2 separate regions of the Homo sapiens genome follow, and region 1 is linked to region 2. Evidence: fine-mapped expression QTL. A gene starts in region 2. The other region holds a variant in brackets. All regions are shown on one strand. Distances are from middle to middle.

Region 1 (2,748 bases), 170 kb before region 2:
GCAGACCCCTGGGAAGGTCTGACCCCACTACAGGCCTCCAGGTACCTCCAGCCTGTCCAGTCTCCTCCATGGTAACTCCCACCCACCCACACTGCTCTGTGCATCTCTGCCTCTGTTGGGCAAGGCCCCTAGAGCCTTGAGCTGACGTCTCACCCACGTGGCTCAGCACAGGGCCATTAGTACCTGCCGACACCCTTCCCTCACCAGGCTGCAAGAACAGAGCCAGTGTGCATGTTAGCTGCATCCCTGGAGAAACTGGGGCAAAGATGAAAGGCTGACTCTTGATTTGGGAAGTGAAAGCCCAGGGCTGTGAGGGTGAAGCTGGGAAAGAGGCCAGGCAATGCTGTGCACAGCCACCCTGACCACCACTCCCAAAGGAGATGCCATGGCCCCACCTCAGAGAGAAAGGAGGGTGCTGTCTGTTGCAAACCCAACGTCTCCCAGTCCCCCGGGACCCCACAGGGAAGCCAAGTGGCATGTCCTGGACGGTGATGTTTCAGCCAAACTCCAAGGTGAGAGTCAACCTGCATTAGGGGAAACAGCAGGCAGCCGGGAACCTGAGAGGTGCCCGGGATTGTGTTCACAGCGTAAGGGTTCCCAGCATGGGGATGGATGAACGCCGGGCTCAGCTGCCTTCCACAAGACAAAGCAGCCACAGGCAGGGGCCGGCCCTCTGTGACAGTGAGGGATCTGTGTAGAAAGGCCTGGCCACGGCCTCCTTTCTCTCCTCAGGCTCTCAACGAGCACGCCTGGCTGAGGAGCTTCTTAGAGGCCTGGGAATGGGTCTGGAGGAGGAGCCAGCACTAAAGACACAAGGAAAGACAGTTTCACAGTCACCGCTTTGCAGCAAATAGAGCCACAGGCTGCCCCAAGGGCCACCACATAGTCTTTTCCCCCGAACCCCGCCCCACCCCAACCCTGACTCACCCTGACTCACTTCCAGTGGGGCCACCACTGCTGGCCCAGCAGCCCTTCTTTGGCCTGCTGGTGTCTTGGGCATTGCGT[G/A]TGTGTGGGGGGGTGTCCACCTTCTCTCTCCTTTCACCTGCATCAGACCACTACTCGCCTTCTGTATCCTTCCACCCAGGGCCCTCTTCACTTTGCATTCTTTTTCTTTCACATTAGACCCTGAGGGTCAGGTTCCCTTTCTGCAAAGGCCAGGATAGCTTGATTTCTAGAACTTCCTAGGTGTAAGGGGAGATAGTTGCTTGCTGTCCCGGGAAGTGTGCTCAACCCTGGAGTGGGTTGGATCCTTCTTATGCAGCAAAAAAAGTGAAGAGAGTGGCCAGGCTCAGTGGTTCATGACTGGAATCCCAGCCCTTTGGGAGGCCAAGGCAGGAGGATCGCTTGAGCCCAGGAGTTTGAGACCAGCCTGGCCAATATAGTGAGTTTCCATCTCAACAAAAAATCAAAAAATCAGCTGGGTGCAGTGGCACACACCTATAGGGCCAGCTATTCAGGAGACTGAGGTGGGAGGATCCCTTGAGCCCAGGAAGTTGAGGCTGCACTCCAGCCTGGGCTACTAAGTGAGACCCTGTCTCAAAAAAAAAAAAAAAAAGCTTGAAAGAGAAAAAAATTGCAGTTTCCTTATGAAACCAGGCTGCGCGTTGCTTTCCCATCTCACATCACTGAGAGGTTTGTCGTCTGGGCTCTAACAACAGGCCGGGATCCAGAGATGAACAGGGCCACGTGCCTGCTCTCAGCTCTGCTTGGTGGCATCTGAGTGAAGACAAGGGTGGTTTAGCAGAGGGACGTGCTGGCCGCAGGCTGCTTGGGGTCCCTGGTGACTCCCAGTGGCCTCGGTGTGTTGGGGCAGGGTGGGATTGTGCTTCTCTGGCCCAGCCCCATGACCTAGGCTTTAAGGCAAACAGTGGGGCTGCTTCAACACTGTGGGTGGGGGGAACTTGGAGCTATAAGATGCCATCCGAGCCTCCGTTCAGAAAGACCCTGGACTCCCACCCCTCTGGAACTGAGACCTGAGGAAGGGCACCCAATCCAGACCCTCCCTTTCCTGGTGCTCCAGCCCCTCTGCCATCCTGGTGCGGGGAGCTGAGGTCTGTGCATGGGTTTGCTTTGTCAGAGCCTGAGGCAGATGCCAGGGTGAGCACAAAGCCACACTGTGTTCCCTGGGAGGCGCTATGGACCCACACAGCCGGCTGAGCCCCATCTCGGCTCTGAGGGGCTCTGCGCCAGTGGATGCCTCCGTAGGGCCTGAGGTCAGAACTCCCTGCCCACCTGCTGCCTGCATACCTGGCAGACACCCCCTACTCCAGCAGCCTGGGACCCAGATTGTCCAGGACAACTCCAAGTATAAAAACCCCTCCCATGGTCAGACTCAGGCTGGGGGTCCTGATTTGGGGTTTGGAAAATAAAGCTATGGAACACATGCCAGCATGTGCCCCAAGACATCTGCAGGGAACAGGTTGCCTGTCACCTTCATCACTGTCCTGACCCAACTGCACAAACCTTCCTAAGCTTCCATCCTCCTGATCAAAGCACCTCCACACTGAAACTGCTTCATTCATGCCGGTGTTGAGGGGTGTGAATGAGTTCCCCAGAACACCAAGCGAATGAAGCCCATGGCATTAAACTCATCCTGTGAAGCTGGAAACACATTCAGAGGAGTAAGTGATTTGCCTGAGGTCACCCTGCAGAGCAGGGGTTTATAATGGAGGAGGGGTGCAAAGTGCTCCGAGAGCAAGGCCCCTCCTGCAGATATGGAGAAAGGCTTCCTATGGGAGGTTTGACCGG
Region 2 (2,913 bases):
TGCTGGCAGAGGGGCGGCGGGCGGCGGCGGCGGCGGCTACAGGAGGGACTGACAAAGCCCCACGGCACGCCGCTCCCTACTTATAGCACCGGCGGGTCGCCATGGAGACGCACCAGCTCAAACCAGCCACGATCGGTTCCGGCCGGGACACCGCCGGGGGAGGGGCGGGGGCCCGGCGGTGGCCAACCCGGGCCCGCGCGGAGCTGGTGGGGCGCCGGCGGGCCGACGTCAGCCGAGCCGAGCACCGCCTGCCCCACGCGTGGCCCCCGCCCCCGGCTTCGCGCCCCGCCCTCCCCGCCCTGCGGCCGCCTCTCCCCGCCCTCCCCGCCCTGCGGCCGCCTCGCCCCGCCCCGCCCTGCGGCGGTCTCGCCCGCCTGGAACTGGTCCGCGCACGCGCACGACGCCGCAGGCCCCGGCCCCGGCCCGCGGCAGCTGAACGGCAGAGCCTGTAGCTGCACAGCTGTGCTTCCACCTGGCGTTCAGTACCTCGTGCCCGAGAGCGGAAAAGGGAAATCGCGAGCGGAGGACCGATGTGCTGGCCACGTGGGCCCCGCCGGGCCGACTCCGGACCCTGCTGCCGCCCATTCCTCCGGTGCAAGGGACCTGGAAGTGATCCCGGTGCCGCTCTGCTCCCACCAGCTAGGGAGCAGAGGCGCGGGAGGGAAGGGGCGTCCCGGGGGTCGCCAGCACGCTGCGGGCAGGGCTGGCAGCCGCCTCCACGCCCCCGCGCTGGAAGCCTCGTCTTTGTAACATCGAGGTATCCTGTAACTAGATGGGTCCTGGCCTGCGGAGGTAGTTTCCCCTGTGAAGCCAGGGACTCAGCCAGGAGCGTGAGGGGACCCGGATCCTGAGTCTCCAAGCCGCCCACTACCCTCTGCTTTACCGGATGGAACTCATCAGTAACTAGGTATCTTTAAGGGCGGCTCCCTGGCGCGCTCTGAGAGTTACGGAAGTCCCAAAATGCTTTGACCGAAAACGTCTAAACAGTGAATACATAAAGCAAAAAGCCGCGTGGGAAATTCGAGTCCCTAGGAGCGCCCAGGGGACGCCTCTGGAGGTGGACTGCCACTCACTCCAGGCCACGCTGGAATGCCCGCACCAGGGAGGCACTGCACTTGAATTGGGGACACTTTTTTTTTTTTTTTTCATTTTTACCTTTCATTCCCTTTTGGACAATCCAGACAGGATATGTCTCTCCCTAGGGTGGGGATTTCGACTCCTTAGGGTGGGAGTACAGCCGATGAAGAGTTAAGGAGAGGAGTGGGTAGATCTAGATCTAGCCTTGGGTGGGTGGGGGCGGGGTTGGAGGAGCTCAGAGCACTGGCCCAGCGCTGCCCCCAACTTGCTGTGTGCTCTTGGACAAGTTATCTCCCTTCTCTGGGCTTCAGATAACCCAAGGATCCTTACATATCTTTATAGCTACAAAGCCCTGTGAGGTTTTGAAAAACTTCCTTGGTACCCAAAACCAGGTCTGAGGCACAGTCAGTGAATACCTGTTTAATGAATGCATGCATAAATGAATGAATGGATGATCCAGCTCTTCCTGGAGCAGGCACGACTTCCACAGAAACAGAGCAAACGCTAGCCGTAAGCAGAAGTGAGTCTTCTTCCTATGTGAAGGGATGTGGGGGTGGTACGCCCCTATCAACTTTATCTTTACATAGTCCTTGAGCGCCCACCGGGCACCGTGTTCCCCGGACTAGAGGGAGGGAGAGGGGGGTTAGCTCCACCCTTAACAAGCTTAATTCTTGATGAGATTAACCATCAAAACCCATCAGAGAACGTTATAGCTCCAGCGCTGAATGAGACATCTTTGATTCTGTGGTGATGCGGACTTTGTGCCTCTCTGTGAGGAATCACTTTGTTCCAATGACGCAATTTTCCTCACACTCCGGAAGTGTCCTGCACTGCCAGAATCGCCCAGCTTCCCGGCACACCTATCAACCAGTCGTTCCCAGCACTGCCCAGTATGCAGCCTCCAGGCAGAGGGCCTGGATGTCTTGGCAGGTAGGGTTCCCCTAGCAGCCTGGGGGTGGTCAGATAGAAACATTAACTGGAACGTAGAGGCCAGTTCTTGGCTCAGGGAGCCAGGAGGGCTCTGACTGTTGCACATACAAGCCACTCACACTGCTATCGCCCACATACCTTCCTCTCCCGCCAGCCCACCCCAAAGCCCAAACTCCTGCCCGCATGCTGGGAAGGTGAGCCCTTGCCTGGAGAGCCCAGCAGGGGAAATAGAAGGAGGGAAGGAGGCCTGCTCCTTCCCCGGAGCTCTGCTCTGCGGCTGCAGGAAGACCCGCAGAGGCCCTGGGCAGCAGAACTGTGGACAGCAAGGCTGGAGTTGTGAAACCCAACCACTCAGCTGGATTCCAGAAGCTCAGGTGGTGGTGACTAAACCTGGCCTTACTTAAAATGCATGACTTTATTGTCTTTCAATGTATTTTCAGTAAACTTCATCCTCTCCATTACTATTTTCTTTTCTTCGGAAACAAGCAACAGATCTTTGTAAAAAAAATACGTGATGCCACGCACTTAGGAATCACCCTCATGTGGAGATGAGATTTCTTTTTTATTTTTTTTTTCTGAGAGTCTCACTCTGTTGCCCAGGCTGGAGTGCAGTGACGTGATCTCGTCTCACTGCAACCTCTGCCTCCCAGGCTCAAGCGATTCTCATGCCTCGGCCTCCTGAGTAGCTGGGATTACGGGCATGTACCACCGTGCCCAGCTAATTTTTGCATTTTTAGTAGAGATGGGGTTTCGCCATGTTGGCTAGGCTGATCTCAAACTCCTGACCTCAAGTGATCCACCCACCTCGGCCTCCCAAAGTGCTGGGATGACAGGCGTGAGCCACTGTGCCTGGCCAGAGATGAGACTTCTATGTGTGGTGCTAAAAGAGTGAATAAAAACATTAGA

What was found. PIP is the estimated chance that this variant, and not a neighbour inherited with it, causes the effect.
Region 1: its variant is fine-mapped to the expression of ODC1-DT in thyroid (GTEx, PIP above 0.99).

Annotation. Positions count from the first base shown.
Region 1 is chr2:10,282,558-10,285,305 of GRCh38, forward strand. No RefSeq gene overlaps it. Among named protein-coding and RNA genes, the nearest start is that of HPCAL1, 19 kb to the right of the region's middle. RefSeq lists enhancers at 252-1,451, 1,510-2,110. The variant G/A (reference allele first, on the strand shown) is at 1,006.
Region 2 is chr2:10,448,275-10,451,187 of GRCh38, forward strand. It overlaps ODC1-DT (ODC1 divergent transcript), which reads left to right and starts at 1,454. Exons shown (of 5, transcript NR_110597.1): 1 at 1,454-1,597; 2 at 1,779-2,007. It overlaps ODC1 (ornithine decarboxylase 1), which reads right to left and starts at 53. Exons shown (of 12, transcript NM_002539.3): 1 at 1-53. RefSeq lists a silencer at 1-923.